Homo sapiens: one gene and its partner. The protein of the gene in region 1 purifies or fractionates together with the protein of each later gene. This does not show direct contact. Each region holds a gene or a part of one and is shown on either strand. Other genes may lie near its edges.

Region 1 (4,595 bases):
TTCGAGACCAGCCTGACCAACACGGTGAAACCCCATTGCTACTAAAAATACAAAAATGAGCCGGGCGCGGTGGTGCAGGTGACTGTCATCCCAGCTACTCGGGAGGCTGAGGCAGGAGAGTCGCTTGAACCCGGGAGGCGGAGGTCGCGGTGAGCCGAGATCGCGCCCCTGCACTCCTCCGGCCTGGGCGACAGAGCGAGACTCAGTCTCAAAAAAAAAAATAAATTAATTAATTAAAGAAAGTGGAGAATTAGCAGCTCTGACTTGATTCAAATCAGGGCTTTTTCCTCTGTTTTTTTTGCCACCTTCTGGGGGGACGTTGGCTGAGAAGCGGGGAGGTAGGTTTCAGTAAAGGAAGGGGATGGGATACAAGCAAAAGTCAATGGTACCTCCCGATCTAAGGCTGGGGGGCAACACTGGGTACCCACCCTGGAAATGCACGGAGCAGAACAACACTCTGTGTTCAGCCACGGCCGACTCAGGATTTTTTTTTTTTTTTTTTTTTTCCAATAAGCCTGTCCTCAGGGGAGAGGTTGAGAATTTTTTTTTTTTTAACACTTGAATACAAATATTTATAAGTTTATTTATATCTCAGTTTTACAAGATGTACATTCATACTACGGGGCGTCACAAAAATACAGTCTGTTGCTGCAACTCAACATTGAGATTATTGAACGTTAGGAGAATGAGGGCGTCACCAGAGAAACTCAGGGTGGTTTTTTTTGGTTTTTTTTTCTGTTTGTTTGTTTGTTTTTTTTCTACCCCTCACCGCCTGCCGACAATAACAGAGGGATAGAAATGTGAAGACTGTTGGTTTGGGAAACGGTGTGTGATTTGTTTTCATCTGAAGCAATCCCTGAAAATATCTGTAGATGTATTTGTAACCCGGACGCGGGGGCCGCTATGTCGTCAATGGGGGAGGGAAAAAGAAAAAGCAACAGTTTTCAGAAATATAAAAATAAATGCAACGCGATGTCAAATTTACACTCGACATAATTAAAATAGTACATATTTATGAACGTCCGACCAAGGAAAAAAAAATAAATAACAAATGCACATACATCACAAAGTAAGAAGCAGGGGCTTTTGCCTCCTTCCCACGGGACCTGCACGTACAATGGGCTGAACTCGTGAAGCCACATCCCCTTTCAATAAATAGCACATTTCATAGCTTTGAAACGGGATATTGTCTACATTCCTTAACCGGCTTCTCATTAAATATCAAATTTCAATAAAACATTTATAAATGGCATCAACTTACCCACGTGTGTCGAAGAATATCAGCATATACTCGCTAAGCTAATTCTCTTTAATAAATTAGGCACCAGTTTTTTTTTTTTTTTTTTTTTTTTTTTAATGTCAAACGTGTCCACCGAAAGCCTCTCTCCTCCCCAGACCTCCCAAAGCTGGAGGAGACAAGCGGCTTCCAGCAAAGTGCCTCCGAAATGTGTGTCGTGGGAGTGGCTGCCGTGTGCCATCCTCGCTATGTCCCCGGGAAAACTGTGGAGCTAAAGGGAGCTGGAGGCTTCTGCTTGTTCTTAGGGGAAAACAAATGTTAGAAAGGTCAGCATGAAACCCAGAGGCGAGGACAGAGGACTCTGGTATTTCCCTTTCATCCTGACCAGAGCTTGGCACCAAAACCTGAAACCCGTCTCGGCTTCATTTCGGTTAAACGCCCAGCTGTCCCCAGACTCTGCGGTATCCACAGATGCTCCCACGTGCTGACGTGGCCAAGGACAGCAGCAAGACCAGAACAGAAACTCAGGCTTCCAAGGAAATGGGACCATTTCGGGGGCCTGGCTGGACTTTGGCGGGATGGAGAGGCCATTCCTACGACAGGGCGTCTTTGGAGCGGCCCAAAGGCCTCCTTCCCGTACGGGAGACACCAAGCCCGTCGCACCACCAGCTTTGTAAGTGGAAAAACGGGTGTTGGACGCGGTCAGTTACGCTCTAAATCGTACAGAGGCACAGAATCTGTCCCATCTCTTTATCCACGGCGCTGGAGAAGACAGCCACAGCCAAGGGGCCCTGTCACCACTGCCTGTGAAACAACACCCCAACGGCCACCAGAGAAGGTGCATTTTTCTAACTCTTGGCAATTGCCAGGAACACACCTTTGCAAAGTATGCACCAGTCAGAGACTCGAACGGAGAAAGAAAATCTAATAGCAACATCCGATACATCCAATTCCTTCTCCCTGTGGGTGCTTCGCAGTCAGAGAGAGAGAAAAGAGAGAGAAAAGTGGATATGTCAGAAACAGATTTCACCAGAACAGCCACTCAAAGGAAGAAGTGTTTTTTGCTCAACTGCGGCGACTGACAACCCTCCACGGACTATTTGGCCAAGTTTTGGGGAGAGGAGGGAAGAAAATACGTATCAATCAGGACCCAACCCAGCATCGTTCAGTTCGGCCAGCAACGTGTTCCTATCAGTGTGCTGGAGCTGGTACGGATCTCACACACCAAATCCTCTCTCTGCAACGGCGTTACATCGGAACACAGCCCACGTTGCTCTCTGGGTGGTATTCCTTGCTCTGCGAGCGAGCTCACCGGGAAGCCACAGGGAAAGCAGGAACGTGACTTTCAAAAGAACCTTGTTTTGAGCAAAAAGCACCAAGAATCGCCAGCGTACACCCACCCCATAAATTCAATTTCTCACCTCCTGTGGAGAGACGTATGTTGTTTCCATGCTGAATGTTCACGCAAACGTGTCTCTGGAGGGCCTTCCGGGAAACCAAACCCACGCACATCACATACAGAGGGTCCCCATCAGCCCAGTCCTTCCTAAACATCTCAGAAAAAGAGAGAGGAGGCCGGGCGCGGTGCCTCACCCCGTAATCCCAGCACTCTGGGAGGCTGAGGCGGGTGGATCATGTGAGGTCAGGAGTTCAAGACCAGCCTGGCCAACATGGCGAAACCCGGTCTCTACTAAAAAATACAAAAATTATCCGGGAATGGTGGTGGGTGCCTGTCATCCCAGCTACTTGGGAGGCTGAGGCAGGAGAATTTCTTGAAGCCAGGAGGTAGAGGATGCAGTGAGCTGGGATTGCACCACTGCACTCCAGCCTGGGTGACAGAGTGAGACTTCATCGAAGAAAGAAAGAAGAAAGAAAAAGAAAGAAAGAAAAAGAAAGAAAGAAACAAAAAAGGAAAAGAGAAAGAAAAAGAGAGAAAGATAAAAAGGAAAGAAACAGAAAGAAAGAAAAGAAAGAAAGAGAGAAAGAAAGAAAAAGAAAGAAAGGAAGGAAGGAAGGAAGGAGAAGGGAGAGAGAAGAGGGCGTTGGTGGTGAGAACTGGTCACAGCCCAAGCTGAATTTCTTACTTCCTTCCATCCGAGAGTTTCAGGGAGAAAGAAGCAGCTAGCATACACGTACCCCACACTCATTCAGGGATCACTCATCCACCTACAGAAAGTCACCCAACTTCTCTCGCAGGAGAAAAGCCAAAGGCAGCCAGTGTCCACAGACACTCGTGTCCCACCCTCACAGTTCTCTGCGTTTGATCTGCTTCGGGGACCCATTTGTGAGGATGACACTTGGCCCTCTTTCCATATTAAATCAAACTGAAACCGTCCCCGCACAGTTGAGAGTCAGTAACTCCCTTTTAAAAGTTCAGATTCAGGCCAGGTGCGGTGGCTCACGCCTGTAATCCCAGCACTTTGCGAGGGACAAAGCGGGCAGGTCAACCTGAGGTCAGGAGTTTGAGACCAGCCGGGCCAACACAGCAAAAACCTGTCTCTACCAAAAATGCAAAAAAATTACCCAGGCCTGGTGGCAGGTGCCTGTAATCCCAGCTACTCGGGAGGCTGAAACCCTGTCTCTACTAAAACTACCAGAAAGTTACCCAGGCCTGGTGGCAGGTGCCTGTAATCCCAGCTACTCAGGAGGCCGAAACCCTGTCTGTACTAAAAATACCAGAAAGTTACCCAGGCCTGGTGGCAGGTGCCTGTAATCCCAGCTACTCGGGAGGCTGAAACCCTGTCTCTACTAAAAATACCAGAAAGTTACCCAGGCCTGGTGGCAGGTGCCTGTAATCCCAGCTACTCAGGAGGCCGAAACCCTGTCTCTACTAAAAATACCAGAAAGTTACCCAGGCCTGGTGGCAGGTGCCTGTAATCCCAGCTACTCGGGAGGCCGAAACCCTGTCTCTACTAAAAATACCAGAAAGTTACCCAGGCCTGGTGGCAGGTGCCTGTAATCCCAGCTACTCGGGAGGCCGAAACCCTGTCTCTACTAAAAATACCAGAAAGTTACCCAGGCCTGGTGGCAGGTGCCTGTAATCCCAGCTACTCGGGAGGCTGAAACCCTGTCTGTACTAAAAATACCAGAAAGTTACCCAGGCCTGGTGGCAGGTGCCTGTAATCCCAGCTACTCGGGAGGCCGAAACCCTGTCTCTACTAAAAATACCAGAAAGTTACCCAGGCCTGGTGGCAGGTGCCTGTAATCCCAGCTACTCGGGAGGCTGAAACCCTGTCTCTACTAAAAATACCAGAAAGTTACCCAGGCCTGGTGGCAGGTGCCTGTAATCCCAGCTACTCGGGAGGCCGAAACCCTGTCTCTACTAAAAATACCAGAAAGTTACCCAGGCCTGGTGGCA
Region 2 (4,418 bases), on another chromosome or scaffold:
CCCTCAGGTACTGGGGTTTGGTTTTCCAACCACAGCAAGACCACCAGGGGTCAGAGCCTCAGAGCAGGCATGGATCACCCCAACAAAGCTTCTCTTGTTTTGCCATCCTGGACTGAGCCTGATCCCTATCCCAGCCAACCTATGAGGATGAGGATTTCTAGACTCTGAGCCCCCTTCCCACATTCCCCAGGCCCTTACCCAGGACATAGATCTTGTTCCCGTGCAGGAAGGTGGAGGCCCCATAGCAGGGTGTGGGCATGGAGGGTAGCGAAAGCCAGCAGTCCCGACGGGGCTCATACACACGTACCTGGGCCTGGGGGGCCGTGTCAGGGCCCATTCCCCCCAGAGCATACACCATACCATCTGCATAGAAAAGAGTAGTTCAGATTGTACCTCAGCCTGCCAGGGTACCCCACCCTGACAGCTGCCCTGGTAAGTCCTGGGGGTGGCTGGAGACCCATGTGTTTATAGCATCCCTCCCCAGCAACAGACACTCTACTACCTGCCTGCAGTGGGGGCTGGGAGATCTGGGATTCCTACTCTGGCCAGGGCCCCTCCGAGTAAAGAGCAGGAGGCAGCCGATCTAATTATAATCCGACTCTGTCTCCCTGGAGATGCTATGGCAACAGAGTCTGGCATCCAAGCAGGGCTGGCCTGGGCTGGTGGTCAGACCTGGAGGCCACAAGGTGGGGACTCCCCTCGGGGAGGAAGATGGGGGGATGGCTTAAGCCAGGGGTAAGAAACATGGGGATCTGCTTAGCACAGAGCTCAGTCTGGGGAGGAGGACTGGGGACCAGCTGGAGTTGGAGATGGGGCTGGGAGAGGAATGGCTTGGGTCTGCTGGGTAAAGATACTGTCCACAAGCCTTCTGCCCCAGGATCCCTGCCAGCACCTCTGTGTGACACTCTTTCATTATAGTAGGTTCTTGCCCTCTGTTAAACCCTCAGAGTCAGCTACGACATGTCTGGGGGCCTTAGGGTAATGGGCCAGTCAGCTGGGGGCTTCCATGGCAACCATCCCAGATCAGCTTGGCCTTTGTCCATATCAGGCTCCCTGGCGTGTGGGAAGGGTTGGGGGTGGGGCAGGAAGTCTAAGCACAGGCTCTGAGCCAAGGCCCTACTCCTCTCCCCCACCCCAGACTATTTATAACCCTGGGAGTCATTAGGCCATCCCACCCCCATCTCTTAGAAATGAGGAGTGGGGCAGGAACATGGCTGGGGTCTCCCATCATCCTGGGATCGGCTTGGGCTCTGCCTCCCACCTTAGCCAGAAAAGGCAGTTAATAGAAGGCAGCAGCTCAAATCTAGGTTGGAAAGGATACAGGGGACAAGGCCACATCCTGGGCACCCATGTAAAAATTACAGCTCTTGTTCAGTCTCTGAGGGTAAGGGACTAAGTCAGGAAATAATAAAAGGTGTTAGGGTACCTGAAGTGCCTTCCTTGGGAGGCCACTCACCTCTCTCCACAGTTGCAACCCCCATGGCTGCTTGAGGGAGGGTGGCCCGACGCTCCCAGCGGCCCTCATCCATCAGGAAGGCCTCTACAGCAGCTACCGGGCTCTGGACCTCATCCACACCACCCACCACTAGCACCTGCTTGCCCAGAACTACCGCAGCTGCACCAGCCCGGGCAGTGGGCAGGGGTGCCAGTGCCAGCCATGTGTGCGAGGCCATGTCCAGTGTCTCAGCAGTGTCCAGGGGCAGTCCAGCCCGGCCACAACCCCCCAACACCAGCAGGTGCCCATCTTGGTGTGCCACTGTGCCATAGACCCGGCAAGTGGGCATGGGGGGGAACACTTGCCAAGCAAAGGCCCGGCCACCTCCTGCAGACATGGTGTTCACTGCCAGTGGCAGGCCATGCTGTCTGCTCAGACTGTAGGCCTCACTGGGGAGGCATGACAGGGCCTCATCTTGATTCTGCCAGGGCCACAAGAGGTATATGACCAGTCCAGGGACCTTGCCTTCACCTGGAGGAAAGAGGGAAAACAGGGGTCAGGGCACTGACCGGCCCCTCAGGAAACAAATAAGCAGCCTGTAGCTAAGGGCAGGGCTGGCCCAAAATCACTGGTGGGAAAGGCAGGGGGAGAACCCAACCCCTCTGGCTAGCACACCACTGTGGAGGCCCTCCTGGAGTGGGAAGGAGGGCAGGCCCCAGGTACCCAGGAGCCTTTCCCCTTTCCCATGGAGGCATGAAGGATTCTCCTTCTCACCCACTACCCAAACCACTCAGCAACTGGGTCAAATCTGGGTCTAGGAGGGCAGTAGTAAGGTGACTAGAACAGGACTCTCCATCCAGGACCCTTCCTTTCCCCTCAACAAGCCTCACGCTGGTCCTGCATGAGGGGAGTCCTTACTGGCTTCCAGGGTGCCCTGGGCAGCCTGGGGGTCCCCACGCCTGCTGTCAGGGGTCAGACTCCAGAGTATCCTTACAACATCCTGGGGGCCATTCCACAGGGTTAATTTAAACCATTCCCACTAGTAAAAGACCAGAGTCAGGGTGTGTTTCAGACTAGGGGGAGGACTAAACACCAGGGTTCCACACTCTCCTCTCGAGGTCCCCCCTCAGGAGTTTGCCCATTCCAAACCCCCCCAGAAGCCAGATTCCCTGGTGTCCAGAAGTGGGGTTGGGGCGGGGGGCCGTTGGAGAAATCTCATGACCACAGGACTCCAGGGTCTGAGTCCAGGGCGTTTCCACCAGGAATGGGCAGCTGGACTTCTGGGTTCCCTCGCAGGAGATCCCCAAGTTCTCCAGCCACCCCTTTCTCTTGGTGGCTACACTCCTGGACCCCTGGCAGGAGGGCCTCTTGGCCCCAAACTTCCAGCTCAAGGATGTGGGGGGCGGGTCTGGGCTAACGCGCTTGGGGTTCTACACCCCGCGCCCCAAACTTCCCCTGAGCGCGGTTCCCGCGGGACTCACCCGCCGGTGCTCCGATGCTGCCAGGGTACGGGGTCCGCCGTTCCGCCTCCGTTGACGCGGGATCTGGCTGGGGCTGAAGTCGGGCTCTGGCGGGGCTCCGGCACTGCTCCGGCGCGGGGCGGGGCTGGGCCAGGTCCGCCCCTCGCCCCCCTCCCCCTCCGACTCAGGGAAACCTCCTCTCGCCTTAACCCTGCACATGCCGCAGCTGGAGCAGGGCGTGCCGATCTACGGTCATATGCAAACGGACAGATAAACGGACACTTGGACACTGGGCCTGACAGAATTTAGCGTCCGACCTCGGGCAAGAGTAGAAATGAGGCAGCGGCGAGCGACACAACACGTGTATGGCAAGGGGCAGTTCTGAGCCCGACCCAGCCTGGGTGCGCAGGCTGTGTCGAGCAGGCCAGCCGAACCCGAGGGCTTGAGGGGCCGGCGCCTGCCCACCTCCGCGGAGCTCCCAGGAGCCCAATTACAGGCTTCCCGGCGGCGCCCCCTGGAGGCCACTGGGGACATGGCCTGGGCCTCTGTCGTGTGGGGGCAGCCTGGGGCGCCCTTACCTGGGCATAAAGCAGGAATAGGTCTTACAGTGTACACTGAGGCTAGCGGGGGTGGAGGAACAGAAGGCACTGGCCCTTCTACAAACCTGGGTGGGGAGAATTCCTGGAAGGAGTGATACTGAGCAGAGAATGTGCTGGAAGAGTCAGAGGCCAGGGGACCTCCCAGTGGGTCACTCTGGCCTCATCCTGTAGGGCCTGAGAGACCTGGGCTACTCTGGGACCCAAGGCACATTATAACTATCAATTTTTAGTATCCTGAGCTTGCCTCTAACCAATTCTGGGGTCAAGCAAGAGCAAACTAGTGTGACAGGGGCCCACCTACCTCAGGCCCAGACCTTGGCCCTGCCTATCTTCTGAGCATTCAGAGTATTAGCTAAGTCTTCAAGCTGAGGGCCCATTTGTACAGGTCAGTGGTACCTGTGGGAAGAGGTCCTTGCAGTTGTCTGTGTCTGCTCACTGCCTTGTCCCCCTTTCATGGACAGTGCTTATCTTAGTTTCCCCCAAAGCAGACCTGGACAAAGATATACATGCATATAGTTAGTATGGGAGGTGAGGCCAAGAAACACCAGCAGTGGCAAGGAGACAAGGAAAGCAGCCAATAAAGGAAGTGTCATCAAGCAAGCTACCACTGTGGGCCATTGGGACCAAATCCTGCTGGGGATTCTGGGAGCCAGCGTAGAACATAGGCCTTACATCATTGCTGCCCCCAAGAACAAGGGGAGCTGAGATACTCATTCTCAAATCTCCATTAGTCATGGGTTGAGAGCTGTTTGGGGGCATTACCTATTAACTCCCTGGCCTCCCTCACATCTGGCCTTCCCAGAAGTCTATGGGTAGACCCTCCCGCATGACCGGAGAAGAGAGCCTTTGCTCTTTTCAGGGACTGTCAGTTGGATTCAGTCGGCCTGCACAGAAATGGTGGTGCCAAGGCTGGTTACAGACTGC

Evidence for each region.
Region 2: the proteins of SHOX (region 1) and KLHDC8B purify together in Homo sapiens (affinity purification with mass spectrometry; one large-scale study listed by BioGRID and IntAct). This does not show direct contact.

The regions. Positions count from the first base shown.
Region 1 is NC_000023.11:647,553-652,147, reverse strand, and holds the end of SHOX (short stature homeobox protein), read right to left. Parts: 3' UTR 564-4,595; downstream 1-563. UniProt on the Homo sapiens protein: Controls fundamental aspects of growth and development.
Region 2 is NC_000003.12:49,170,184-49,174,601, reverse strand, and holds the start of KLHDC8B (kelch domain-containing protein 8B), read right to left. Parts: upstream 3,005-4,418; 5' UTR 2,917-3,004; intron 1,967-2,916; 5' UTR 1,833-1,966; coding exon 1,457-1,832; coding exon of another isoform or gene 1,427-1,456; intron 364-1,426; coding exon 199-363; intron 1-198. UniProt on the Homo sapiens protein: Involved in pinching off the separated nuclei at the cleavage furrow and in cytokinesis. Required for mitotic integrity and maintenance of chromosomal stability.